Homo sapiens: one gene and its partners. The protein of the gene in region 4 purifies or fractionates together with the protein of the main gene of each other region. This does not show direct contact. Each region holds a gene or a part of one and is shown on either strand. Other genes may lie near its edges. The genes, in order: EIF4G1, CBX1, H4C6 and CHAF1B.

What was found.
Region 1: the proteins of CHAF1B (region 4) and EIF4G1 purify together in Homo sapiens (affinity purification with mass spectrometry; 2 studies listed by BioGRID and IntAct, with this or other methods). This does not show direct contact.
Region 2: the proteins of CHAF1B (region 4) and CBX1 purify together in Homo sapiens (affinity purification with mass spectrometry; 4 studies listed by BioGRID and IntAct, with this or other methods). This does not show direct contact.
Region 3: the proteins of CHAF1B (region 4) and H4C6 purify together in Homo sapiens (affinity purification with western blotting; 2 studies listed by BioGRID, with this or other methods). This does not show direct contact.

What each region holds. Positions count from the first base shown.
Region 1 is NC_000003.12:184,331,606-184,336,762, forward strand, and holds the end of EIF4G1 (eukaryotic translation initiation factor 4 gamma 1), read left to right. Parts: coding exon 1-1; intron 2-122; coding exon 123-204; intron 205-340; coding exon 341-481; intron 482-3,121; coding exon 3,122-3,303; 3' UTR 3,304-3,748; downstream 3,749-5,157.
Region 2 is NC_000017.11:48,091,479-48,098,478, reverse strand, and holds part of CBX1 (chromobox protein homolog 1), read left to right. Parts: intron 1-7,000. UniProt on the Homo sapiens protein: Component of heterochromatin. Recognizes and binds histone H3 tails methylated at 'Lys-9', leading to epigenetic repression. Interaction with lamin B receptor (LBR) can contribute to the association of the heterochromatin with the inner nuclear membrane.
Region 3 is NC_000006.12:26,234,732-26,242,237, reverse strand, and holds H4C6 (histone H4), read right to left. Parts: upstream 1,846-7,506; 5' UTR 1,813-1,845; coding exon 1,501-1,812; 3' UTR 1,445-1,500; downstream 1-1,444. Other genes in the region: H1-3 (histone H1.3), read left to right, coding at 7,305-7,506. UniProt on the Homo sapiens protein: Core component of nucleosome. Nucleosomes wrap and compact DNA into chromatin, limiting DNA accessibility to the cellular machineries which require DNA as a template.
Region 4 is NC_000021.9:36,401,101-36,410,386, forward strand, and holds part of CHAF1B (chromatin assembly factor 1 subunit B), read left to right. Parts: intron 1-1,657; coding exon 1,658-1,751; intron 1,752-7,660; coding exon 7,661-7,730; intron 7,731-8,273; coding exon 8,274-8,365; intron 8,366-9,286. UniProt on the Homo sapiens protein: Acts as a component of the histone chaperone complex chromatin assembly factor 1 (CAF-1), which assembles histone octamers onto DNA during replication and repair.

The DNA of each region.
Region 1 (5,157 bases), on a different chromosome or scaffold from region 4:
GGTAGGTTTCTCCTGGATATCGATAAAGGAAAGGTAGTTCTTAGGGTGGGGGTGGGGGCAGCAAGAATGAAGACTGAAGGGCCCAATTCAGAATCTGGGGATCATTTGTTTCTCCCATACAGGCCAACCTGAGTGAGCAGCAGATAGTATCCAACACGTTAGTTCGAGCCCTCATGACGGCTGTCTGCTATTCTGCAATTATTTGTAAGAGGAACCAGGGAGATGGAGGGGCAAGGGTGGGCCTGACAGACAAGTGGAGGGAGGTGGGTGTCAGCCTTGGCCTCCCAGTTCTGAACCGGGGTAAGGGTATATTGCTCCACTCATCCCTGTCTTCTTGTAGTTGAGACTCCCCTCCGAGTGGACGTTGCAGTGCTGAAAGCGCGAGCGAAGCTGCTGCAGAAATACCTGTGTGACGAGCAGAAGGAGCTACAGGCGCTCTACGCCCTCCAGGCCCTTGTAGTGACCTTAGAACAGCCTCCCAGTAAGAGCCAGGCCATGGGGACAGGGGTGGGGTGGAGGGACTGCCAGATAGCAGGGCATGAGACCCTTCATGGAAGGGTCTTAATCCAAGAAAGGTAGGTAGTCATTAGAGAGCAAAATGCCCTCTGGGTTTCATTCTTTCCTTTTACGTTTGTGTTGTGTTGTTCCTACAAGTGGAAGGAGTTAGACACAGCCTTGAAGGGTAATTGCCTGTTTTGTGCCTAGCCATGTGTTTGATGCCAACAGTGCAGAGGTGATAAATGATAGGATCTTCCCAGTACCGTGTGCCCCCACGGCGTGGCACAGGGCTGAAATGCTTTGCTTACCTTGCCTCATGTAGTCCTCACAAATGTTGTTTAGGGTGGATGGTATTACCCCTATTTTCCACATGAGGAGACTGAGGTCTCAGTGAACATGTCTCAGGTTATGCATTCAGAACATAGGTATGTGTCAGGGCATTGGCATGCTCACAGAGAGGAAGCCGAGCAATTTCCTGTGCTGGCCTGGAGTTAGTACTGGCGTGAGCAATGAGCCTGGGAAGACGGGTGCTCTCGGAGGGAGGACACCTGGTCTGAGGGGTAATGAGTGGTAATTCACTCCACAACAACTGGGAAGGGGAGGGGGAGAATGTTTGAAGCGAAGGCACTATGTGTGTTCTTTCTACCTATGGTAGGAAGAACTTGACACAGGGAAAAGAACTATTAAAGAAAGGCCAGTGTGGGAGAGCACAGCAACCAGTCCTAAGTGAGGCAAGATGGGGCCGAAGAGAGGGATGTGGGCCTGACCACACAGGGCCGGGTGTAAGCCATGGCCAGAGTCTGGGGCTTTAGCCTGGGGGCAAGAAAACGCCTTTGTGGGATTTTAAGCAAGGAATAAAGGAATTTGATTTTAGTTTTTAGATCATCTTGGCAATAGAGGGAAGAGTGGTTTGGAATGGGGTGAGAGTGGATGTGGCAGTGTTAGCACCAGTGGCTCAGCCTTGCTGGTGATGGTGGAGAGGAGTAGGCAGATCAAGAGATACTTAGGAAATGGAGTTGGCAGCTTTTGGTTACACTGGTCTGGGGAGGGGGCCGTGAGAGATTAGAAGTCATGGATGACTCCCAGGATGGTTTTTAAATCACAGTGGGCTTAGAGGCCATAGTGTGATGTCATTTGCTGGGGTAGGCAACGGTGGATCAAGTTGAGTTGTGGTCCTTGAGTAAGGGAATCGAGATGTCAGCTCAATAGCTGGGGTATCTGGGTCCTTTTGGAAAAGAAGAGATCAGGGCAGGAGGCAGCTTTGTGAAATGCCGGCACAGGGTAACTCATGTGCAAGTCATAAGAGGATACGGGCTTGCCTGAGGGAGAGTGATAAGGGCCTGAGATACAGCCCCAAGGAGGTAGAGCGGACATACTGGTAGGGACCAAAGGAGGACAGGCCCCTCTGAACCAAGGACAGAGAAATTTGAGGAGAGGGATGTGGTTGATAATGCCAGATGCTGCTGTGAGCGTTTGTAGGAGTGGGCCTGAAAATGCAGGATGTTTGGAATATAAAAACATAGAGGCCACCCTGGCAAAAACAGTATTTAGTGGGGCAGGGGACAGATTCTGGATTGGAAAGGACTGAGAAATACTTAAGTGAGACAGAAAGAAGGGAAAACATCAAGTGTAGACAAAATATTTTATTAGCTGTAAGATAGTGGTTGAAAACAGGGCTTTTTGTTTTTAGGTTAGAGAAACTTGGGCTTGAAAATACAGGGCAGAGTGCATAATCGATTGGATGGGGTCCCTGGGTGGGTATGTGTGGGATTTGGAGTGTAGGTACGGGTTAAGTGAAGGTTCTGCCCTGCTATGGCCCATTGCTATGGGGTGGGGGTAGCAGGTGACTGTGCCCCTAGGCAGTTTGTGACTTTGAGGCTGGGCATGCCCTGCAGAACATCCTGGCTGGCAGCATCTCATAGATGGCTTAGAAGTGTAAGGTTTGGTTTGGAAAGACTGGTGGTGCCTTGTGGGCACTGGGGTCGGTTGTGTTTCAGGGGTTATAGGACACGTTGCTTGGGAAGGCTACCCAGCAGCTAGGGGTTGAGGAGAAAGAGGGCCCGAACAGGTGATGCTTGAGTTGAGTCCTGAAGGAACAAGACACGAGGAAGTTTCCGGCAAAGGATATAGCATCCACAAAAGTGTCAAGGCCAGAGAAGGTGTGTATGTACAGGAAATGTGTGGGGAAGGAAGGGAAATTGAGATCAGGAGTTGTCAGGATCTGTTTGGGGGGCAGTGAATGTTCAGGTTACATGTAGGATATATATAGGACTTTATGTATGATATATATAGGACTTTTAGCGATTTCCTGAATTCAGGAGTACCAATTCTGAATATAGTTTTCTCCATTAAATACATCATGGGCAGAGAGGTTTCAGGCTGCCAAGGTGAGGCCAAGCAAGTTTGTAAGGTTTTTCTGATGGCCAAGTGACTCATTGCTGTGCAGCAGTCTCAGATCATGAGATTAGCATCCTGTCAGAGGCCTAGTCACTCTGGAATGGCCACAAATGTCAGGCTGGTGCATCAGGGCCTTGTTTGAACAGTGGAACTTGGGAGGGTTCCCTGGGGTGGGCTGGGGTGGCGGTGGCCAGTCACCTCTAACTGCTGTCCCGCCTGCTTGCAGACCTGCTGCGGATGTTCTTTGACGCACTGTATGACGAGGACGTGGTGAAGGAGGATGCCTTCTACAGTTGGGAGAGTAGCAAGGACCCCGCTGAGCAGCAGGGCAAGGGTGTGGCCCTTAAATCTGTCACAGCCTTCTTCAAGTGGCTCCGTGAAGCAGAGGAGGAGTCTGACCACAACTGAGGGCTGGTGGGGCCGGGGACCTGGAGCCCCATGGACACACAGATGGCCCGGCTAGCCGCCTGGACTGCAGGGGGGCGGCAGCAGCGGCGGTGGCAGTGGGTGCCTGTAGTGTGATGTGTCTGAACTAATAAAGTGGCTGAAGAGGCAGGATGGCTTGGGGCTGCCTGGGCCCCCCTCCAGGATGCCGCCAGGTGTCCCTCTCCTCCCCCTGGGGCACAGAGATATATTATATATAAAGTCTTGAAATTTGGTGTGTCTTGGGGTGGGGAGGGGCACCAACGCCTGCCCCTGGGGTCCTTTTTTTTATTTTCTGAAAATCACTCTCGGGACTGCCGTCCTCGCTGCTGGGGGCATATGCCCCAGCCCCTGTACCACCCCTGCTGTTGCCTGGGCAGGGGGAAGGGGGGGCACGGTGCCTGTAATTATTAAACATGAATTCAATTAAGCTCACTGCCTTTCTGCTTTATGCCCTGCTCCCTCTAGAGAAGGTGTTTATAGGTGGGGATCCTTCCCAGAGCTGGTACTGTAGCGCTGTTCCCTGTAACCTGGCACCCCTCCTGCCTCTTCCCCTGTCCATGATTGCAGGGATCTGAGGTTTCCTGGAAGGTTGGGCCCTCAGATGGGCTTGATAGGTGCCTTCCTGGTCCGGAGAAAAGGGAGATTAGTGATAGGACATCCTTGCTAGGCTCTGCTCTCCTACCAGAATGATTCAAGCCCCTGTGTGGGGAAGGCTTTTGGGTTTCGGGTTGTTTATAGCTGGAGAATCCCTTTATGGCTTGAAGGTGTCATCTGTAAAATGAAGGGGCTGGATGCATGAAGGGAGGTTTTGCGACCCCGTGTAGTGTGACTGGGCTGGCTTAGTGAGTGTTCGCCGCCCCTGCCTTCAGGTGGCAGTCGGCTCTGGGAGGAGAGGACCGGCATTTTCGAACCCGGTCCAGGCCGCCTCTGCGTGGCTGTGACGTCGCTGCGCCCCGCCTACTTTGGGTGGTGACGCGGCGGTCACGCCCCCGCGCTTACGTCACCGGCCCGGTTCCCTCTCCGGGGAGCGGCGGCGGACGCGCGGCTCCCACCCCTCCCCTCTCACGGGCTCTCCCCTCCCCAGTGTGGCCGCGACCCTACCCTCTGCAAGGCGATGGCCCGCGCCCCGAGCGCAGGCTAGCGTGCCTGGGTGCCCGGCCATGGGCTGTATCGGCTCTCGGAGCCCGGCGGGTCAGGGTAAGAGGCGGAGGCCGGGTACGGGTTGGGGAGTCGGGCTGCGGCCGCCGGTGCGCGGGCCGCGGGTGGGTGGGGGCCTTGAGGAGGGGGCCGGTGTCGGGAGAGGGAGGAGCCTGCACCGGGAGGCGGGCCAGGCAACAGGAGGGAGCGGGAATGAGCAGGGAAGGGGCCAGACCGACTCCGGTTCGCTCCCACGGCCTGCCTGCCTTGGGGTTTTGCAGGGCAGACGCATGGTCTCGCCGCTGGCTGCCGTGTGCCCACTGCTCAGGGTGGCCGGAGACGCACAGCCCCGGGAGGGGCTGGGCAGCCCGATGCCCCCACCACTCCAGCCCTCGGCGACTGGCCTTGCGCGCCCACACACACACTCCCCTCCGCCTACACCTCTGCCTTCACAGTCCTGGGAGTGGCCCTGTGCTGGGAACCTGCTTCTCCCAGCCGTGTCCCCATCTTCTTAAAGAGGTAGCCTTTCGGTCCTGGCTAAGCACCCTACCACAGAATTTTTGTCGGACATTGACTCCCCTCTTCAGTCAGTCGGCGAAGGGGGACTGAGGTCCCGTTTGGGGCACCTGTGAACACTGAATCACCTCTCACCTATTACAGTTGTTTTAATGTCCTGCCCCCACTCAGCAAAAACAAATC
Region 2 (7,000 bases), on a different chromosome or scaffold from region 4:
TGTTCATTAGTGCCTGGCACATAGTAGGCCGTTCAGATTGTTGATGAATGAATGATGAATAGGGGAGCTTTGAGATCCATTCTGAGAACTCAGCCAAATTAATGTGCATAGTAGTTTGCTTGTCCTGTGTCTGTGACATTTGGCAGAGTTAAGCTGTTGCTTTGCCATGTTTGTCTTAGCCTCAGTTAGTTTCTTTTTGTTTGTTTGTTTGTTTGTTTTTTGTTTTTTTAAGACAGAGTGTCGCTCTGTTGCCAGGCTGGAGTGCAGTGGTGGCATCATGGCTCACTGAAGCCTCAACCTCCTGGACACAAGCAGTCCTCCCACCACAGCCTCTTGAGTAGCTAGGACTACAGTCTCATGCCACCATGCATGGCTTCTTTTTTGTGGGGACAGTCTCTGTTGCCCAGAATGGTTAGCTTCAGTTTTGTACTCACTCTGGTACTAAATATAGAAAAGGTATACAGGCTGTGCAACTGGCCGTTTTAAATACCTCAGGCCTCAGATTCTGGGTTTTGTCAGCAAGCAAATAGCTTGAATATATCTGTTTTAAAAGAATCTTGAAAAATCTTCTGTGTCCTTTGTATTGACCTGAGCAATAATTTACCAGTAGCAATGTCTGTTGAAAAATTGAATAGCCTTTCCAAGGTTATTTGGAGAAGTTACTCAGATATGGACAAAATTTAGATCTTGTCAATATTTGCATAGAATAACTTGTATTAAATCTTTCCTGCCTTTAGCATTTATACTTTGATGACCAGAAGGGGGCAACCTAATTTGTCTGTGAAATTGTGCCTTTTAAAATAATAGTTGACACTTTGAGTGCGTAACAGAACTATGGTATTAATTTTTTTTTTTTTTTTTTGAGACAGAGTCTCGCTCTGTCGCCAAAGCTGGAGTGCAGTGGCGCGATCTCAGCTCACTGCAACCTCCGCCTCCCAGGTTCAAGCGATCCTCCTGCTTCAGCCTCCGGAGTAGCTGGGACTACCAGGGGGCCCCGACAACGCCCGGCTAATTTTTGTATTTTTAGTAGAGATGGGGGTCTTGCCATGTTGGCCAGGCTGGTGTTGAACTCCTGACCTCGGGTGATCTACCCTCCTCGGCCACCCAAAGTGTTGGGATTACAGGTGTGAGCCACTGCGCCCAGCCTATAGTATTAATTTTTAACTGACAAGAATGGTGTATCCTTATGGGGTACAATGTGGTGGCGTTTTTTTTTCTTTTTTTGAGACGGAGTTTCGCTCTTGTTGCCCAGGCTGGAGTGCAGTGGCGCAATCTCAGCTTACTGCAACCTCCGCCTCCTCGGTTCAAGTGATTCTCCTGCCTCAGGCCTCCTAAGTAGCTGGAATTACAGGCGCCTGCCACCACGCCTGGCTAATTTTTTGTATTTTTTTAGTAGAGATGGGGTTTCATCATGTTGGCCAGGTTGGTCTTCAACTCCTGACCTCAGGTGATCCACCCTCCTTGGCCTCCAAAGTGCAGAGATTACAGGCGTGAGCCACCACGCCCAACTTGTGGTGGGGGTTTTTGAACTTTTATTTTTCTCACATAAATAGAGGCAGGGACTCACTATGTTGCCCAGGCTAGTTTCGAACTCCTGGCCTCAAGTAATCTTCCCACCTCACCCTCCCAAAGTACTGGGATTACAGACATGAGCCACTGCACCTGGCCCACTGTGGTGGTTTTTGTTTTTCTTTTCTTTTTTTAGACAAGTCTTGCTCTGTCACCCAGGCTGGAGTGCAGTGGTGCACTCCACTCAGCTCACTGCAGCTTCCACCTCCCGGGTTCAAGTGATTCTCCTGCCTCAGCCTCCTGAGGAGCTAGGAATACAGGTGCACACCACCATGCCCAGCTAACTTTTTTTGTATTTTTAGTAGAGATGAGGTCTCACCATGTTGGCCAGGCTGGTCTTGAAATCCTGACCTCAAGTGATCCACCCACCTCAGCCTCTCAAAGTGCTGGGATTGCAGGTGTGAGCCACCATGCCTGGCCACTGTGGTGTTCTGATACGTTTCCAATGTAGTCATAATTCTGGTCTAGCTTTCTAACCACTTTTATTTTATCTTAAATTCACCTTTGAAAGATAGCTTGAGGTATCTCTGTGTCCATACTAACATTTGTAGACTCTTGTGGCCTCTCAACCCAAAAATCTGTGTCAAAATATCCATGTCAACATACTCAAGGGGTTTTCCAAGTTTCAGAACACATCTCAGATAAAATTCAAAATGTATTCGCACACCAGCATTCTAGCCTTTGATCCTCTGGAATTCAAGGGCTGGTGTTCCTTTAAAAATGAAACTCCTGACTGGGCGTGATGGCTCACGCCTATAATACCAGCACTATGGGAGGCCTAGATGGGTGGATCACCTCAGGTGGGAACTGAAGACCAGCCTGACCAACATGGAGAAACTCCGTCTCTACTAAAAATACACAATTAGCTGGGCGTGGTGGTGCATGCCTGTAATCCCAGTGACTCGGGAGGCTGAGGCAGGAGAACTGCTTGAACCTGGGAGGCGGAGGTTGCAGGGAGCCGAGATTGCACCACTGTACTCTAGCCTGGGTGAAAGAGCAAGACTCCATCTCCAAAAAAAAAAGAAACTCCTGCTAACTGTGTGTGGCATAAGTTCTTGTTTTCTGCTTAGTCAAGTTTTCCATCTGGAAAGCATTTGCTTCGCAAACAGCCACAGCTTACAGACTACAAGCAGTTTAGAAACAAGACTACCACCTGAATATACTACACATGCCTTCACCTGCCTTTTGATGATTGGTATGTAGTTGCTGATTCTTTCAACAAAAGGTACTTCTTTCTTGTTTTCTCTTTAGGGCTTATGGATCAGATTTATCTTGCTGCTTATTCCCTTAAAAGCTTATAGCTTTGGAATTCTATTCCCTGATGCTTCTGAGACAGTCATCCTCTTTTTTTTGAGATGGAGTTTTGTTCTTGTTGCCCAGGCTGGAGTGCAATGGTGCAATCTCAGCTCACCGCAACCTCAGCCTCCCAGGTAGCTGGGATTACAGGCGTGTACCACCATGCCCAGCTAATTTTGCATTTTTAGTAGAGATGGGGTTTCTCCATGTTGGTCAGGCTGGTCTCGAACTCCCAACCTCAGGAGATCTGCCTGCCTCAGCCTCCCAAAGTGCTGGGATTACAGGCGTGAGCCACCGCGCCCCACCTGAGACATCCATCTTTATTGTCCATATAGGGTTCAACAACTTGTTCAGGTTCCAGACCTACCTTTAATTGTATGTGCAAGTAAAAATAGAAACAGAATGCTTTGGGAACCCCAAAGAAAAGAGAAATATTATTTAGCTAGGTTGGGTAGGCTTCATGGAGAAAGTAGCATTTTTAAGCTGGGTCTTGAAGAATGGATAGGATTTTGACTGTTGGCCCTGTACAGGAGCACACTACTTTCTTTTTTCTTTCTTTTTTTTTTTGAGGCAGAGTCTTGCTCTGTCACTGAGGCTGGAGTGCAGTGTCAAGATCTTGGCTCACTGCAACCTCTGCCTGCCTGGTTCAAGTAATTCTTGTGCCCCACCCTCCCAAGTGGCTGGGATTACAGGCATGCACCACCACACCTGGCTAATTTTTGTATTCTTAGTAGATATGGGGTGTCACCATGTTGGCCAGGCTGGTCTTGAACTCCAGGCGTCAAGTGATCCACCCGCCTCGACTTCCCAAAGTACTGATTTATAGGTGTGAGCCACCAAGCCCAGTCAGGAGCACACTTTTTTTTTTTTTTTTTCCTTTGAGACAGAGTCTTGGTCCGTCACCCAGGCTGGAGTGCAGTGGCGCGATCTCAGCTCACTGCATCCTAACCCCGTTTTCCGGATTCAAGCAATTATCGTGCCTCAGCTTCTTGAGTAGCTGGGACTACAGGTGCGCCATGCTGGCTAATTTTTTTTTTGTATTTTTAGTAGACACGGGGTTTCACCATGTTGCTGGGCTGGTCTCAAACTCCTAGCCTGAAGGATCCACCCACCTCGGCCTCCCAAAGTGCTGAGATTACAGGTGTGGGCCACAGAGCCCAGCCCACACTTTTTTTTTTTGGAGACAGAGTCTTGTCCTGTATCCCAGGCTGGAGTGCAGTGGCACAATCTTGGTTCACTGCAGCCTTCACCTCCCAAGTTCAAGGAATTCTCCTGCTTTAGCCTCCTGACTATCTGGGATTACAGGTATGTGCCACCACACCTGGATGATTTTTGTATTTTTACTAGAGTTGGGGTTTCACCATCTTAGCCAGGCTGATCTTGAACTCCTGACCTCAAGTGATCCACCTGCCTTGGCCTCCCAATGTGCTGGGATTACAAGCATGAGCCACTGCGCCCTACCAAGCCCACACTTCTTTTTTTTTTTTTTTTTTTTTTTTGAGACAGAGTTTCACTCTTGATGCCCAGGCTGGAGTGCAGTGGCACGATCTTGGCGCATCGCAACTTCCGCCTCCCAGGTTGAAGCGATTCTCCTTCCTGAGCCTCTGGAGTAGCTGGGATTACAGGCATGCGCCACCACACCCAGCTCATTTTGTATTTTTAGTAGAGATGGGGTCATGTTGGTCAGGCTGGTCTCGAACTCCTGACCTCAGGTAATTCGCCTGCCTCAGCCTCCCATAGTGCTGGGATTACAGGCGTGAGTCACCATGCCGGGCCTAAGCCCACACTTCTTAATACTTAATAGATGAGCAAAGCTATGGAGGAAACATAGGATATGTTCAGGTTGTGGCCAGGTTATAGTCTTTGACAGGAATGTAGATTTTGTGAGGGAAGAAGGGACATAATTAGTCTGGAATAAGAACCGAAGAATATAAGTGTTACACTGACGACTTTGGCCTTTTGTTTTAAATGGGAGGAAACCTTGTAGAAAATATTTCCTATTCAGTCAGCTCCAGCCCAAACTGGTTTATATGTGTCACATTGCCTTTGTTTACAACAGTTCCTGAAGCCAAATTGCCCTACCAGTACACCTTTTCAAATGCTAGTAAAGCCTGGTTTCAAACTCAGCTTTTCAAAATGTTTACTGATGCCCTCGCCAGTTCTTCCTCCAACCTCCTATAGTGCGTTTATGGCTACTTTTTATTGCTTATACTGCTTTTGGTAATTATGTATGCTTGCCATTTCGGACTCTCACTTGAACTTGCATTGTTTACCTTTTTGTAAATTTTTTTCGAGACCTGTCTTCTGTGTCTTTTTTTTTTTTTTTTAATTTTATTTTTGAGACAGAGTCTCGCTCTATTGCCCAGGCTGGAATGCAGTGTCGTGATCTGGCCTCACTGCAACCTCTGCCTCCTGGGTTCAAGCAGTTCTCCCTGCTTTAGCCTCCCAAGTAGTTGGGTAGCTGGGATTACAGGCGCCTGCCATCATGCCCAACTAATTTGTTTCTTTCTTTTCTTTTCTTTTCTTTTTTTTTTTTTTTTTTTGAGACAGAGTTTTGCTCTTGCTGCCCAGGCTGGAGTGCAATGGTGTGATCTCGGCTCACTGCAACCTCTGCCTCCTGGGTTCAAGCGATTCTCCTGCCTCAGCCTCCCGAGTAGCTGGGATTACAGGCATGCGCCACCACGTCCGGCTCATTTTGTATTTTTAGTAGAGACTGGGTTTCTCCATGTTGGTCAGGCTAGTCTTAAACTCCTGACCTCAGGTGATCTGCCGACCTCGGCCTCCCAAAGTGCTGGGATTACAGGCCTGAGCCACCATGCCCGGCCTAATTAATTAATTAATCTTTTAGAGATAGAGTCTCGCAGCTGGGTGCGGTGGCTCACGCCTGCAATCTCAGCACTTTGGGAGTCTGAGGTAAGTGGATCACGAGGTCAGGAGTTCGAGACCAGCCTAGCAAAGATGGTGAAACCTTGTCTCTACTAAAAATAGAAAAATTAGCCAGGTGCAGCGGCGGGCACCTGTAATCCCAGTTACTCAGGAGGCTGAGGCAGGAGAATCCCTTGAACCCGGGAGGTGGAGGTTGTGAGCCAAGATAGCTGCACTCTAGCCTGGGCAACAGAGCAAGACTCCCTCTCAAAAAAAAAAAGAGAGAGAGAGAGAGATGGAGTCTTGCTGTGTTGCCCAGGCTGGTCTGAAACTCATGGCCTTAACCACTCCACAACCCTTGCCTTGGCCTCCTAAACTGCTGGGATTACAGGTGTGAGCCACAGTGCCTCGCTAATTTTATTTTTTTTTTAATAGATAGTATTAAAAGGTAGAAGATCTGGTCGGGCATGGTGGCTCAGTCCTGTAATCCCAGCACTTTGGGAGGGCGAGGCGGGCAGATTACCCGAGGTCAGGAGTTCGAGACCAGCCTGACCAACATGGAGAAACCCCATCTCTACTAAAAATACAAAAGTAGCTGGGCATGGTGGCGCATGCCTGTAATCCCAGCCACTCGGGAGGTTGAGGCAGGAGAATCACTTGAACCTGGGAGGCGAAGGTTGTGGTGAGTCAAGATGGCACCATTGTATTCCAGCCTGGGTGACAAGAGTGAAACTGCATCTCAAAAAAAAAAAAAAAAAAAAAAAAGATCTGGCTGGGCATGGTGGCTCACGCCTGTAACCTGAGTACTTTGAGTGGTCGAGGTGAGTGGATCACCTGAGGTCAGGAGTTCGAGACCAGCCTGGCCAACATGGTGAAACCCCCTCTCTACTAAAAATACAAAAATTAGGCCTGGTGTGGTGGCTCACGCCTGTAATGCCAGCACTTTGGGAGGCTGAGGCTGGTGGATCACCTGAGGTCAGGAGTTTGAGACCAGCCTGGCCAACATGGTAAAACCCCGTCTCTACTAAAAATTCAAAAAATTAGCTGGGCATGGTGGCGCGTGCTTGTAATTCCAGCTATTTGGTGGGGCTGAGACAGGAGAAGCACTTGAACCCTGGAGGCAGAAGTTGCGGTGAGCCAAGATCATGCCCCCGCATTCTAGCCTGGGCAAGAGTGAGACTCTGTCTCAAAAAAAAAAAAAAAAAAAAAAAAAGGGCATGGTGGCGGGCACCTGTAATCCCAGCTACTTGGGAGGCTGAGGCAGGAGAAT
Region 3 (7,506 bases), on a different chromosome or scaffold from region 4:
AGAAACACTTTGGGTTATAAATTACCAGTACTTGAGAAATAAAGCAGTAAAATTATCAATGACCTGAAATCACAGTAAGTGCCCCAACAAAGAATTCACTGGGTAAGACAAAAACTTGGGCTTTTTTTTTTCTTTTTGAGACGGAGCCTTGTTCTGTGCCCCAGGCCTGGAGTGCAGTGGCGCGACCTCGGCTCACTGCAACCTCAGTCTCCCGGGTTCAAGTGATTCTCCTGCCTCAGCCTCCCGAGTAGCTGGGACTACAGGCGCGTGTCACCACGTCTACGTCTAATTTTTGTATTTTTAGTAGAGACGAGGTTTTGCAGTGCTAGCCAGGCTGGTCTCGAACTCGTTGAGCTCAAGTGATCCACCCACCTCGGCCTCCCAAGCTGCTGGAATTACAGATGGGATTGCAGACATGAGCCACCGAGCCCGGCCAAACTTTACTTTTTTTTTTTTTTTTTTGAGGCATGGTCTCTGTCGCCCAGGCAGGAGTGGAGTGGCACCATCTCAGCTCACTGAAATCTCCGCCTCCCGTGCTCAAGCGATTCTCCTGCCTCAGCCCTTGCAGATTAGCTGCGACAGCAGGCGTCCGCCACAACGCCGGGCTAACTTTCCTATTTAACTTTTTTAGTTGAGACGGAGTTTCACCATTTTGGTTGCCCAGGCTAGTCTCGAACTCCTGAGCTCTAGTAATCCGCCCGCCGTGGTCTCCCAAGGTGCTGTGATTCAGGCCTGAGGCACCGCGCCCGGACACAAGTAGTGGATTAAGTTTACCAGTAATTGATCTGTCCACAGCCGCCCTAAGATTACTCACGTTCTATGCCTAATAAATAACACTAAGGCCGGGCACGGTGGCTCACGCCTGCAATCCCTGCACTTTGGGAGGCCAAGAAGGGCGGATCACCTGAGGTCGGGAGTTCGAGACCAGCCAGACCAACACAGAAAAGCCCCTTCTGTACTAAAAATAAAAAATTAGCCAAGCGTGGTGGCGCATGCCTGTAACCCCAGTTACTCGGGAGGTTGAGTCAGGAGAACCGCTTAAACCCGGGAGGGGGTGGTTGCGGTGAGCCGAGATTGCGTCATTGCACTACAGCCTGGACAAGAGCAACTCCATCTCAAAAACTAAACATGTAATGCTAGTGTAGTTAAGTCCCAGCCACCTAACATAGGAGTAAATTTCAGAAACGTGGGAATAAAACACATCACATACGTCATAAAAGGCTGCTGGTATTCCCAAACCATTTCCACCATCTTTTCCTGTGAATGTTTGCGATCGAAATACCTGAACAAGTTTCTAATGTTTCGCCTTCCCTTTCTCCTTAGCACATCCGCCATCTTAGGAAGATCGCTAAAAACGGCTCGGTTTAACTCAGTTAGAATCCCAAATTTACAAAACGAAACCCAAGTCGTCATCAGTTACAGCCCTTCGTGTGACGAAGGAGGTGGCCCTGAAAAGGGCCTTTTATGGGTGAGCTGTTAAATAAAAAGCCGGGGTGAGGCTCAGCCACCAAAGCCGTACAGAGTGCGTCCCTGGCGCTTGAGCGCGTAGACAACATCCATTGCAGTGACTGTCTTACGCTTGGCGTGCTCCGTGTAGGTTACGGCGTCCCGTATCACATTCTCCAGGAACACCTTAAGAACACCGCGGGTCTCCTCATAAATGAGGCCCGAAATGCGTTTCACGCCGCCGCGTCGGGCCAAGCGACGGATGGCGGGCTTCGTGATGCCCTGTATGTTGTCACGCAGCACTTTGCGATGGCGCTTGGCGCCTCCCTTTCCTAAACCTTTACCACCTTTGCCTCTACCAGACATGATCGAAGACAAACAACAACTCTTAACTTTTGCAACTTTGCTACACACTGAAGCCCCTTATATATCAATTATGCGGACCTTTTTGGAGACTGAATTGGAGGGGCGGGAACGAAACCTCTGTCTCCGCCTTTTCCGTAACTTACTGGGCGTCCCCTACACTATTGCCTTGGGAAGGAAAGGGGGCGGTGAGGGTAGGGGAAATGCAAGTTGATTTGACTCCTTCCTGTTTCCTTGTTTGGGTCTTGAGTGTAGGTTTCTGTGTCTTCTAGTCCAGTGCCTGTGGGCTCTCGAACTGATAATGTCTGTCTCCTAAAATCCTTATTATTTGCAAAAAGGAGGCAGTAACGCTACACTTGTCTACCGAATGGATAGACAAGAGAATAAAATTATTATTTCTTTTGAAACAGTTTTGCTCTGCCCCAGACTGGAGTGCAGTGGCGTGATCTCGGCTCACTGCAACCTCCGCCTCTCGGGTTCGAGCGATTCTTCTGCCTCAGCCCCTGCAGTAGCTGCAACTACAGGCGCGCGTCACCACGCCCGGCTAATTTTTGTATTTTTAGTAGAGATGGGGTTTCGCCATGTTGACTAGGCTGGTCTCGAACTCCTGACCTCAGGTGATCCACCCGCCTCGGCCTCCCAAAGTTCTGGGATTACAGGCGCCTAGCTTTAATTTTTAAATGTGAAGATTCTTTGAAAATGTATTTTTACTAATTTTTTTTTTTTGATACGGGGTCTCACTCTGTTGCCCAGGCTGGAGTGCAGTGGCGCTATCTCGGCTCACTGCAACCTCCGCCTTCTGGGTTCAAGCGATTCTCATGCCTCAGCCTCACGAGTAGCTGTGATTTCAGGCACGCGTCGCCACACCTGGGTAATTTTTGTATTTTCTTAGTAAAGACGGGGTTTCGCCATGTTGGCCAGGGTGGTCTCGAACTCCTGACTTCAGGTGATCCACCCACCTTGGCCTCACAAAGTGCTGGGATTACTGGCGTGAGCCACCACGCCCGGCCATTTTTATTAATTCTTAAAATGTAGCAATACTTCTTAAATTTGGCCAATCATGAGACTTAGCGTTTGGCAGAGACATATACATTCACATCGTTTTTGGCATTCCTAATAAAGAAAGACCTCTAGTAAGGGAAACCAATATTAATTGAAGTTTCATTCTTAGTTTTTCAATGTATAATGCAATATCTGAGGTGTAAAGATAAGGAATCCCAGGCTTGAAGACATTATCCTCTAATAAATGGCATTGTATTGTTGGCTCGATTCTGGAGTCTCACTACCTTGCTACCTACCACTGCTTTCATGCCACTAAAGCATACATGGTAAATCATGGTGAATAAAGGTTTGTAAATTAACAAAAATAATACTAATAAATTCTGTGAAATACTGTCCTAATAAAAGATTCCGGAAGAAGTGTTCTACACACAGATCATAGGGTATGTGTAGTAGAAAAATTCAACATTAACTCTTACAGTCTACTGCTTCACATTCATTGCCTCCTATATACTGCAAGGGTAACTTAAAAATCCCGTCTCTGCTGGTGCCTAAAAGCAGTGAGAAGATTATTCATTTTGTGGAGTTAAGAGTCTACTTAAATTTTGGCTTAGGTTCAGTTACCTGTAGGAATAGACACAAGGATCTCAAGTGCTCTCCTTTTTGAGGTAGGCACCAAACAAGCATCATTCATTCATTCAACAATTTAATGTCCACTACATGCCAAGAATAGTGTACAAATACCAGGTTTACAAAGATAATCACATTTATTCTCTTAAAGAACTCAAAAGTTTAGTAAAGGGAAAAGTACACTCAGGGTTAGGGGGCAGATATCAGACCAGCATACTTCTACTTACTGTCAGGTATTTAAGGGCGGAGCAGCCATATCCCAGCTATACTGGCATCACTCTGAAGCTTGTTAGACATACAGAATTTCGGGCCCAACCCCAAATCAATGGAATTGATATTACATTTTTAATGAGATCTCTAAGTGGGTGGTAGGTATGCTCTTCCAAGTTTGAGAATAATTGTTTTAAAGCTCTGCTGTCCTATATTAGCCACTAGCAACATGTGCTCATTTTTATTTAAATTAATTTAAATTAAAAATTAATTTGCACACTTACTCTAGCCACATTACGGTACTCAGTAGCCACATATGGTTAGTGGCTACCTATTGGACAGTGTTAATACAGAATATTTTTATCATCGCAGAAAGTTTTATTGGGCTGTATCTGTGATAAGGGGGTTTCTTCTGAAGAGCTTCTAATCCAGTCTAGAAGGGAGGAGGGAGTTTGGTGGATGCCTGAGACATGTAAAGAGAAAACTGTAAGTTTGAGTATAGTAGTGGCCTTCTTAGGAAATAAAATTAACACAATACTGTTGTACTTGAAGAGGAATTTCAAGGAGCCAGTGTCCTCAGGTAAGACTACCTCATAGACGGTTACAATCGATGTGATTTCTCATGGACTTTTTGAACACGTTTGATTCTAACACAAAGCTTTATTTTCTATAATAGTCTATATATGTTTTCACCCCTTTTAATATTTATTCTATATAGTTTCTTTTTTTTTTTTTGGAAATCTTTAAAATCTGAATTGTGTGATGCTTAAGCACAGTGTCACTGGATTGATCTATTGAATACTACCTACAACTCTCATAGTCATTTACTATGGTGGTGGTGGGGATGGGGGAGTTAACACAAAATGAAGAGAACACTGGGCCTTAAGTTAGATAGCTATCACTTATCTAACTAGTTTTTCCTAGCTACTTTTTGCATCTATAAAATAAATGGTTCCAACCTCAGTGTAATGGGAAATCTACTGTTTTAGATTATATTCAGATTTAGGATTCCAAAGCAACACAGAACTCTTTTTGAGGGCTACCAAAGTAATAGGTGAAACTTTGCAGGACTTCAAGTTTACAGTCCATGGGGTGATCCAGCTTTCAGGAACCTTGTCCTTGCTACAATTACAGAGAAGATAAGTACCAGGTCCCAACTTATGTAGCCTAGCCCCTTTCCTCTTTGAACATCTGGCGAACTTTGTTGGTGAAACTGAGTCTCAGTTATTGCCCTCCAGAAAGAGCAGAGATTAGTTAGCCCAATGCCTTTTTACTTACTGAGATCCTAAGTAGCTATGGGAACCAGTCAGTGTTGCACAAGAATGAAATGGTGGCATCTGTTAATTGACTATATCTAACACGGTGAACAATTCCAACAATTATTCAACAACTATTAAGACTACAATAATGATCAAAATAATAAACAGTAAACAATCTGAATTTTAATTGTACCTTTACGTCTAGGCAATATAAAGCTATGGTCCCAAAAAAAAATACTTAGAGTATGCTTGTGACTATCACTGTTGAAAATGATATCCATAATGATGCACCGCCCCTGCCTCCAGAAACCTATAAAATGCTTCCCTACTGGAATTGTGGGGTCCTACTAATCCAATTCTATAAGTTTAGCTTTTTTATAAACCACATTTGTATTTCAGTGGTGTATAACACGGTCTTAAGTCCCAGAGACTTGTTTCTAATACATGCAAGAGAGTAAATAATTACTTAAGACAAGCTTAGTAATTTTTTTTTTTGAGATGGAATTTCACTCTTGTTGCCCAGGCTGGAGTGCAATGGCACTATCTTGGCTCACTGCAACCTCCGCCTTCCGGGTTCAAGCGATTCTCCTACCTCAGCCTCCCAAGTAGCTGGGATTACAGGCGTGTGCCACCATGCCCGCCTAATTTTTGTATTTTTAGTATAGACAGGGTTTCACCATGTTGGTCAGGCTGGTCTTGAACTCCTGACTCAGGTGGTCTGCCCAGCATGGCCTCACAAAGTGCTGGGATTACAGGCGTGAGCCACTGCGCCTGGCCAAGACAAGCTAAGTAATTTTTATGAAATTAGTTGAATGAGGAGAGATGACATCTTTAAAGTTGATTATTTTATCTAGGATTTATATGAAAAAATCCTCTAATCACTATTGAGTGTAGGCCAGAATAACTTGATTTTTTGAAATGAGTATTTTTGTTAGAAGAAACATAACATCAAACTACTTCTCTTGTTTCTTCAACATAGGAGTTCATTTCAGCATCTGATTACTTGATGGAGAATATCAATTTTGTGCTTAATTATTTAATAATAACCTAATTCCATCAGCTGTATTGCAAACTAACAGATAAAGAATACTGAAGTTACTCATGTTTGCTTTGAAATGTTTGTTCAGCTCCTTAGGTGGACATATTCAACCAATTAATTTAGGGTGTGACAGCTTAGTTCATATTTTGTGTGTAAAAAGCCAAGTAGAATGATGAAAATTTACAGTGATTTAAATCAGATATTTTTCTTTCTAACCCTTGATGCCCACACTTGCAATGTTGAAAATTTGTATTTTATTTTTTTAAAGTGACTTTTACCAGTTATTCAAACAGGTTGTACAGAGAAAGAGGAAGGGAAATTTGTATTATAAATATGATTTTAAAATATAAAAAATGTACAAAATTCTATGATGAATATTAGCAAAAAAATAGTGTATTTCATTAAATTATTTATAAAGTGATGGGACACAAACATGTACACAAGCTCTCAATGCTCACAGTTGCCAAAATGATGTTGGCCTGCCATTCTATTATTTGTTGGTTCAGTTTTCTTTTTTGGGGATGTGGTAGTTGATCTTTAATGCCCATTCTAGATCGGAAAAATCCATGATCCTAACTTTTAAGAGAAGGTTGGTAACTCTACTTAGGACTTTTTTTTCTGTAAGAGGAATAATGTAGCCTCACCCTTATCTTTCTGGAAATGTTTAAACCACTGAAATATGGAGATCAAATCCAGCTTACACACTGGTAACTCAAATACTATTTTTTTTTTTAAACTATCTTTTCTAAACTAATCACCCCTCTTGTACATAGAACTTTCTACCTCAGTGCCAATTCCTAGAGGTTGATGCAAACAGCTCGCCAGAGAGCCTGTGCTATTGTTCCTGCGAAAAAACCCAATTTCCCTGCACATTTGGATAAAAATGAGTTTATCTATATAAAGTTGAGACGGTAAGAATTCACAGAACAATGCCCTGGAAGAGAGATTTGCAAATGAAAGAGGGAGAAATAGTATTTTTAAGGAAAACATGAAAGTTGTCTCGATTTGACCGAAGTTTGAAAGAGAGTTGGGGGAATAAGAAAAGTTTCAAGATGCCGGTTTTAAAACTATGCATAGAAACAAAGGCAGGAATGAAGCCCGAACTCTCTCGGATCAGTTTCCCCCAAGTCTCTAATTATTTCATGCCCAGATTTCTTATATTTTTACTCTTTTTTAAGGGGCAACAAACACAGCAGCGCGGTAGATACGAGGAGTCCTTTTCCAGCAGCGCCGCGCATGGAGCAAGGAACCAATCATCACTCAGCGTCTCTCTATATAAACCCTCAGCCTCCCTCGTAGAGGACATGCTGTTCTGACAGTTTGAGATTACTTATTGTCTTTTCTGGGAAGACAAAAACATGTCGGAGACTGCTCCACTTGCTCCTACCATTCCTGCACCCGCAGAAAAAACACCTGTGAAGAAAAAGGCGAAGAAGGCAGGCGCAACTGCTGGGAAACGCAAAGCATCCGGACCCCCAGTATCTGAGCTTATCACCAAGGCAGTGGCAGCTTCTAAGGAGCGCAGCGGCGTTTCTCTGGCCGCGCTTAAGAAAGCGCTTG
Region 4 (9,286 bases):
TACTAGAAATACAGAAATTTGCTGGGCATAGTGGCGCATGCCTGTAGTCCCAGCTACTCCGGTGGCTGAGGCACGAGGATCACTGGAACCTGGGAGGTGGAGTTTGCGGTGAGCCGAGATTGCGCCATTGCACTCCAGCCTGGGCAACAAGAGCGAAACTCTGGCTCAAAAAAAAATATGTGTATATATATGTTTTTGTATATATTATATATAATATATACTTTAATATGTTATATATTTATATTATATATAATATATTTTTATATTATACATAATATATATTTTTATATTATACATAATATATATTTTTATATTATACATAATATATATTTTTATATTATACATAATATATATTTTTATATTATACATAATATATATTTTTATATTATACATAATATATATTTTTATATTATACATAATATATATTTTTATATTATACATAATATATATTTTTATATTATACATAATATATATTTTTATATTATACATAATATATATTTTATATTATACATAATATATATTTTTATATTATATATAATATATATTTTTATATTATATATTTTATATATATAAAAATATATCTATTACATATATATATATATGAATAGTAATGCCGGCTTCCTTGTGTTCTTAAGAATTAAATGCTTGTTTGTTTGTTGAGACAGTGTCTGGCTCTGTCACCCAGGCTGGAGTGCAGTGGCACGATCTTGGCTCACTGCAACCTTTGCTTCCTGGGTTCAAGCGGTTCTCCTGCCTCAGCCTCCCGAGAAGCTGGGATTACAGGCGTGTGCCACCACACTTAGATAATTTTTGTATTTTTAGTAGAGATGGGGTTTTGCTATGTTGGCCAGGCTGGTCTCGTACTCCTGGACTCAAGTGATCCGCCCGCCTTGGCCTCCCAAAGTGCTGGGATTACAGGTGTGAGCCACCATGTCTGGCAAATGCTTGATGTTTATAAATAGTAGTAAAAACTGTCCCAGACAGGTGTTAAAGAAATGTTGTTTTAAAAGATTAATGATTACCAGTTTAATAATCCACTATTTTCTTTTTTTAAAGGGTGCATTTGTTAATAGCTGGATGTGGTGGCATGTGCCTGTAGTCCCAGGAGGCTGAGACGGGAGGATTGCTTTGAGCCCAGAAGTTCTAGGTTACAGCGACCTATGATTGCGCCACTGCACTCTAGCCTGGGTGACAGAGCGAGACTCTGTATCTAAAGAGTGCATTCAGTTGGAAATTCTAATGAATCCACACAGATAGAAAGCAGAGGTCTCCTGGTCATCTTCCCACTGTCTGCCAGTCTCAGGCCCCAGACATGCCACTATTGACCCTGTGGTTTGTGTTCTTAAGAGTTTTTAAAAATAATTTTAGAACCACATAAAACACACATATATACATATAGCTTTACCTAACAAAAATGTGTGGTCAGTTTTCATGAATGTTTACCCTTGCAGTGTTGTACAATTATTTGATTTGTAATGTGTTTCAGTTTCATTTATGATTATGTCAACAATAAATGACACTATGTAAAGAAAACCATAGGCACATATAGCAGTTGGGAAGCGTTTATTTGTGAGTGTAAAGATTTGGAAAAATGTTTAAGCTTTGTGTGTAGAAAACAAACAAAAAAAATAATAAAAATAAATTTTGTGTGCGACAGGCAAGAAGCTACCGGATGTTTCACGACGACAGCATGAAGTCTTTCTTCCGTAGACTGAGTTTCACTCCCGACGGATCTTTGCTTCTCACGCCAGGTGTGTTTCGTAGCTTTGGACTTAAAGGAATGATGGCCGAGTGGGGATGTCTGCTCCCGTTTTACGCTGCAGCTTATCAGCTCAGTGAATGCTGATTAGAGTGGGGGTCCCCGACTTACCTGCCCATTGGAACCTCCAGGAGAGCTTCAAAAAACACATTGGTGCCTATGTCCCATCCCTAGAGATTGTAGTGTATGTAATTGGTCTGGGTGGCCTGGCTTTTGGAATTTTAAGAAGATTTCCAAGTGATTGTAATGTGCAGAAAAGTTTGGGAGTAATGAGTTTAAAATGATAGGCATTTTCTCTTAGATAAATTTAACTTTTGGCTGGGCACAGTGGATCACACCTGTAATCCCAGCACTTTGGGAGGCTGAGGCGGGCGGATCACTTGAGGTCAAGAGTTCATGACCAGCCTGGCCAACATGGTGAAACACCCTCTCTATTAAAAATACAAAAATTAATGATGTGGTGGCGCATACCCTGTAATCCCAGCCACTTGGGAGACTGCGGCAGGAGAATCGCTTGAACCCAGGAGGCAGAGGGTGCAGTGAGCCGAGATCACACCACTGTACTCCAGCCTGGGCGACAGAGTGATATCTTATCTAAAAAAAAAAAAAAAAAAAAAAAAAGAAACTTTACTATTTAAACCCTTTCAATGAATGCTTTTTCATTCATTAACATGTGTATGGAAGCCATAGCGCTAAAGCCAAAGATAAAGCTCCTTTATTGTTTTTATTCTCCTCAATAAAGCGCATTTGTGACAGGATTAGACTCATGGACAAACTTGTGGAAGCAGCAGTGGTCAAAATCAAAAGGTCAGCCAAGTAGCAAGGACTAGATAGGTTTATTGTCCCTATGTCCCTAGGAAGGCAAGGGGCTCAGCCCAGCAAGATAAGGCTAGGCATTATTGTGGCCACAGTGTTCTCAGAGGAGAATGTCTGCTCATTGCCGTGGCTCCAGGACCATCCTGTGCATAGAGATGACAACATAGCCCAGGGTTGGGCCAAACGGGAGGGCACTGTCTTGGTTTGCCACTGAGTCCCATCCCAGCTGAGCCAGGGAGGGCCTGAGAAGGGCGTGAATCACACATGCAGCTGTGTGGGTGGGGCTTTAAAGAACACTGCGGAACATGTGCGAATGACACTTTGGCCCAAGAAGTCTCAGGACTAAGAATAAGTAGTTGTTTAGGTTATATTTACTAAAGTTAGTTATTAAAAGTTATTCACTAAACCCAGTAATAAATCCTTTTTTTTTTTTTTTTTTTTGAGACTGAGTTTTGCCCTGTTGCCCAGCTGGAGTGCAGTGGCACGATCTTGGCTCACCACTGCAGCCTCCGCCTCCCAGTTTCAAGCGATTCTCCTGCCTCAGCCTCCTGAGTAGCTGGGATTACAGGTGTGCGCCACCACTCCCAGCTAATTTTTGTATTTTTAGTAGAGACGGGGTTTCACCATGTTGGTCAGGCTGGTCTCAAACTCCTGACCTTGTGATCCGCCTGCCTTGGCCTCCGAAAGTGCTGGGATTACAGGCTTGAGCCACCACGCCCGGCCCTTTTTTTTTTTTTAAATTATTTATTTTATTTATTTATTAATTTATTTATTTTGAGATGGAGTTTCGCTCTTGTTACCCAGGCTGGAGTGCAATGGCACGATCTCGGCTCACAGCAACCTCCGCCTCCCGGGTTCAAGCCATTCTCCTGCCTCAGCCTCCGGAGTAGCTGGGATTACAGGCATGCGCCACCACGCCCAGCTAATTTTGTATTTTTAGTAGAGACGGGGTTTCTCCATGTTGGTCAGTCTGGTCTCGAACTCCGGACCTCAGGTGATCTGCCCACCTTGGCCTCCCAAAGTGCTGGGATTATAGGTGTGAGCCATTGCGCTGGCCTTTTTTTTTTTTTTTTTTTTTTTTTTTAAAAAGCAGAGTCTCGCTCTGTCACCCAGGCTGGAGTGCAGTGGCACCATCTTGGCTCACTGTAGCCTCCACCTCCTGGGTTCAAGCGATTCTCCTGCCTCAGCCTCCTGAGTAGCTGAGATTACAGGCGCCTGCCACCACAACCAGATAATTTTTGTATTTTTAGTAGAGATGGGGTTTCGCCATGTTGGCCAGGCTGGTCCCAAACTCCTGACCTCAGGTGATCTGCCCACCTTGGCCTCCCAAAGTGTTGGGATTACAGGTTACAGGTGTGAGCCACTGCGCCCAGCCCCAGTAGCAAATCCTTTACTATTTGGCCACTCTAAAAATATTTTCAATTAAAATCAAGTAGCAAATGGATGTCTGTTATCAACGTTATTGTTCTTTGTGGTGTTAGTAAGTGTGGGAAAAACAGGAAAATGAAATTACAAAGATTGGAAAAGAACAGATAAAAAACTGCAATAGGATTGTATTTCTAGAAAATCCAAGAGATTTTAAAAATAGTATTAGAATTTTTAAAATAATTTGATAAGATGGCTGGATATTATAAAATATATAAAAATTCCTATCTTTCGTCTATATTGGCAGTGAGTACTTAGAAATGGAAGGAGGAGAAATATTTCATTCAGAGTAGTGCAAAACCTGCAAAATACATAGAGTAAATTTATTTATTTATTTATTTTTTGAGACAGGGTCTCACTCTGTCACCCAGGCTGGAGTACAGTGGTGTGATCATGGCCCACTGCATCAGCCTTGATCTCCTGAGTTCAGGGAATCCTCCCACCTCAGCCTCCCTACTAGCTGGGACCACAGGCGTGTAGCACCATGCCTGGCTAATTTTCTTATTTTTTTGTAGAGACATGGTCTTGCTATGTTGCCCAGGCTGGTCTTAAACTCCTGGGCTCAAGCACCCCTTCCGCCTCGGCCTCCCAAAGAGCTGGGATTACAGGTGTGAGCCACCACACCCAGGCAGAAGTAAATTTAATGAGAAAGGGGCAGGACCTTTATGGAGAAGTCTAGAAGGTCTTACTGAAGGTTATAAAGCAAGTTCTGAACAAATGGAAAGATATGTCGTGTTCTAACAATTAACATACTAATTTCATTTCCAATTAGAATTGCATTAAAGTTTTTTTTTAATTGGATGAAATCTCAGCTTTGTTTAGTAGAATAAATGCTGAAGAATAGCCAAAGAAGTATTAAAAAAAAAACAGTGATACTTGGGAGGGCATTTGCCTCACCACATATCAGAAGATCCTATAACACTACTTTTAGCCAATCAATATGGTGTTGCTATAGGACCAAACAAATAGATTAGTGGACCAGAACACAGAATCCAGAAAAAGATCTCAGGATATAAGGCGATTTAATATATGACCTCAGGTGCTGTTCCAGTGGAAAAAAATCTATTATTTATTTGTAATTAATTGTATGTTACTTAAATAATTCTCAAGAGAATTAGACACTGAAGGCAGATAGGACAAGAGTATGTCATTAAGAAGGTTGGGAAGTGTTGAGATTGGACAAAGACCTATTCCTCTTTTTTTTGAGAGGGTTTCACCCTTGTCGCCCAGGCTTGAGAGCATTGGCGTGATCTTGGCTCACTGCAACCTCCATCTCCTGAGTTCAAGTGATTCTTCTGCCTCAGCCTCCCAAGTAGCTGGGATTACAGGCGCCGGCCACCATGCCCAGCTAATTTTTGTATTTTTAGTAGAGATGAGGTTTTACCATGTTGGCCAGGGTGGTCTCAAACTTCTGATCTCAGGTGATCCACCCGCCTCAGCCTCCCAAAGTGCTGGGATTACAGGCGTGAGCCACTGCACCTGGCCTCCTTTTTTTTTTAATTGACAGATGAAATTGTATGTAGTTGTGTATGACATGATGTTTTGAAGTATATATATGTTGTGGAATGACTAAATCTAGCTAATTAGCATAGCATGGTCTCACATAATTAGGATTTCTGTGGTTTGAACGCTTTATATCTCTTAGCATTTTTCAGGAATATAATACATTGTTATGAACCATAATCACCATGTTGTACAAGAGATGGATCTTGCAAAGGGAGGACTCTATTATTGAATGAGTAGTGCTGGGGTAGCCAGCTATGTGGAAGAAGGTAAAATTGGACCCCTTGCCTAGATGTAAAAAATAAATTCCAGGTGAATTCAGTACTTAAACACAAAAGGTAAAAATAGAAAACTCTTGTAAGGAAATATAGGAGGACATTCTAGGAATGGAGAAGACCCAATTAAGACTGGAAACTGGCTGGGCATGGTGGCTCAAGCCTGTAATCCCAGCACTCTGGGAGGCCAAGGTGGGTGGATCACCTGAGGTCTGGAGTTCAAGACCAGCCTGGCCAACATGGCAAAACCCTGTCTCTACTAAAAATACAAAAATTAGCCGGGCATGGTGATGCACACCTGTAATCCCAGCTACTCAAGAGCCTGAGGCAGGAGAATCGCTCCAACCCAGGAGGCAGAGGTTGCAGTGAGCCAAGATCGCACCACTGCACTCTAGCCTGGGCAACAGAGTGAGACTCTGTCTAAAAAAAAAAAAAAAAAGTATATGTTCAAGGATGCTTATTGCAAGCATTGTTTATAGTGGTAAAAAACCAAAAGCCAAAAAAATACTCATTAACAGAGGCTGGGTGAATGAATCTTGCAGTAAATATTATGCAGCTACAAAAAAATAATGCATCAGTGCTATGCAAGTTAACTTTCATGAGTAGTTGATTGAAACAAGCAAAATAAGGAGAAGTGTCAGTTTTGTAAAACAAATGGACTCAATAAAAAATATCATAGAGGTATACATGTGATTGAGTTATAACTGATTGTAATGATTATGTGAGCATGGAGGAAATATACAGATGACATAATGGTTTGTTGAATGTTAAAATGGATTTCTTGGGGATGGAAGAATGGAGTGGGATGAAAAGAGGGGCCTGGGTGCAGTGACTCACGCCTGTAATCCCAGCACTTTGGGAGGCGGAGGAGGGCAGATCACTTGAGGTCAGGAGTTCGAGACCACCCTGGCCAACATGGTGAAACCCCCTCTCTACTAAAAATACAAAAATTAGCCGGGCATCGTGGCAGGTGCCTGTAATCCCGGCTACTCAGGAGGCTGAGGCAGGGGAATTGCTTGAATCTGGGAGGTGGAGGTTGCAGTGAGCCAAGATCACGCCATCGCACTCCAGCCTGGGTGACAGAGCAAGACTCCATCTCAAAGAAAAAAAAAAGAGGGCAGCTATGTAGAATGTATTAATAATAATAATAAAAAAGACTATTGATACTGTCTACTGCCCTCCCTGGTGGATATGAAACAGTCATATGTAAAGTTACGTGTGTGTATATGTATCAAGAAATAGCATAAAACAGGGAGATGTTTCCAAGAGCAGCAGTGTATGATGGTCACTCTGACAGGGCTGAACTGTTTTAAGTACAGCAGGGGGTGAGTGTAGAAGAGCTCTCAGATGGGGACTGTTCCCCAGAGTGAAGTCAGGTTCTGAAGGAGGCTGGAGGTTTCAGCAGAGGGCAAGGTCTCCTGGCAGCCTCATGGCTGGATAGGGAAGTTGGGGAAAGGCGAGTCTCAGCCTTTGGATGGCATCCAAGGCTGGAATCCAGGAAATAGAGATGAGGGTCCTAGGGAGAAAGGAGCCTGGGCAGCTGAATCTAGTCACGGTGCTTCAATCGAGGAATTGCCTGGAGGCTCAACGGTGCCCTATGGCAAAGGCTCACTATGTTCTCCTCGCCCAAGATCAGAACCAGGTCCCCGGGGATTGCCCACAGGTAGGTGGAGATGACAGGTAGGTAGAACTGGAGTAAGGGCTGAGAACAGACAGTGCCGGAATATATGTTTTTGTGCTCTGTCACAACATTGTCCAGAGAATATAACTGCAGGGGGAAGTATTTTGCAAACCGGACCTGAAGGCTCTTGAGTTTCTGTTGGTGAACAGTTTGCTGAAACAGTGACTTTTCTTTCCTCTCCCTCCCTTCCCTGTTCCCCAGCTGGATGTGTGGAATCTGGTGAAAATGTAATGAATACCACTTATGTTTTCTCCAGGAAGAATCTTAAAAGGTATGCAGTCAAGGAAATGTTTGAAATGTTTACATTTTTTTTAGACGGAGTTTCGCTCTTGTTGCCCAGGCTGGAGTGCAATGGTGCGATCTCTGCTCACTGCAACCTCTGCCTCCCGGGTTCAAGTGATTCTCCTGCCTCAGCCTCTTGAGTAGGTGGGATTACAGGTGCCCGCCACCACTCCTAGTTAATTTTTGTATTTTTAGTAGAGATGGGGTTGCACCATGTTGGCCAGGTTGGTTTCAAACTGCTGACCTCAAGTGGTCCGCTTGCCTCGGCCTCCCAAAGTGCTGGGAATACAGGCATGAGTCATTGCACCCGGCTTGTATTTTTTTTTTTTTTTTTTTTTTAGTAGAGATGGGGTTTCGTCATGTTGGCCAGGCTGGTCTTGAACTCCTGACCTCAGGTGATCCGCCTGCCTCCTCCTCCCAAAGTGCTGGGTTTATAGGTGTGAGCCACCGCGCCCTGCCAAAATGTTTACCTTTTATTTTTGCTTTTGCTTAGTCACAGTGCCTTTTCCTAACACTGCAATTAATCCATTAGGCCCATCGCTCATCTTCCATGTCCTGGAAAAGCCACTCTTGCTGTTCGCTGCTGTCCGGTCTACTTTGAACTGAGGCCAGTGGTGGAAACAGGTATCCTCAGAGCCTCAGGGGTGTGTTATGTTTTCTCTCCGAAACAGGTCACCAGAGTGGGGTGGAGATTTGGATTCTGTCTTATGGGGAAAGGTGGGTATCTGGGTTTGGTTCAGTTCAGTTATTTTAAAAATATTTTATTTTTACATTTAAATCTATTTATTTATTTATTTTGAGACCAGGTTATCAGCCTGGTTAATTTTTGTATTTTTGGTAGCGACAGCGTTTCACCATGTTGCCAAGGCTGGTCTTGAACTCCTGGACTCAAGTGATCCACCTGCCTCGGCCTCCCAAAATGCTGGGATTACAGGTGTGAGCCCCTGTGCCCGGCCTGGTTTAGTTATTTTTAAAAGCTGGAGCAAAGACTGGGGTTATCAAAATACATGTCAGTTTTTTTTTTTTTTTCTTTCTTCAGGATATATTTTCTTGCTTAAGGCACTTTAAAAGGAATGGACGTACTCCTTTTGTTTGTCTATGTCTCTCATTATCAATTTTCTTTTTCTTTTTTTTTTTTTTGAGATGGGGTCTTGCTCTGTCGCCCAGGCTGGAGTGCAGTGGTGCAATCTTGGCTCACTGCAAACCCTGCCTCCCAGGTTCAAGGGATTCTCCCTCCTATCCTCCAGAGTAGCTGGGATTACAGGCGCATGCCACCACACCCAGCTAATTTTTGTATTTTTAGTAGAGATGGGATTTTGCCATGTTGGCCAGGCTGGTCTCGAACTCCTGACCTCAGGTGATCCACCCACCTTGGCCTCCCAAAGTACTGGGATTATAGGCGTGAGCCATCATGCCCAGCCATTTTCTTTGTTTTCTTGTGCTTGGGGTTCATTGAACTTCGTAGATCTATCCGTTTATAGTTTTTATTACATTTGGGAAGTTTCAGCCATTTTTCCTTCAAATGTTATTTCTGTTATTCCCTTC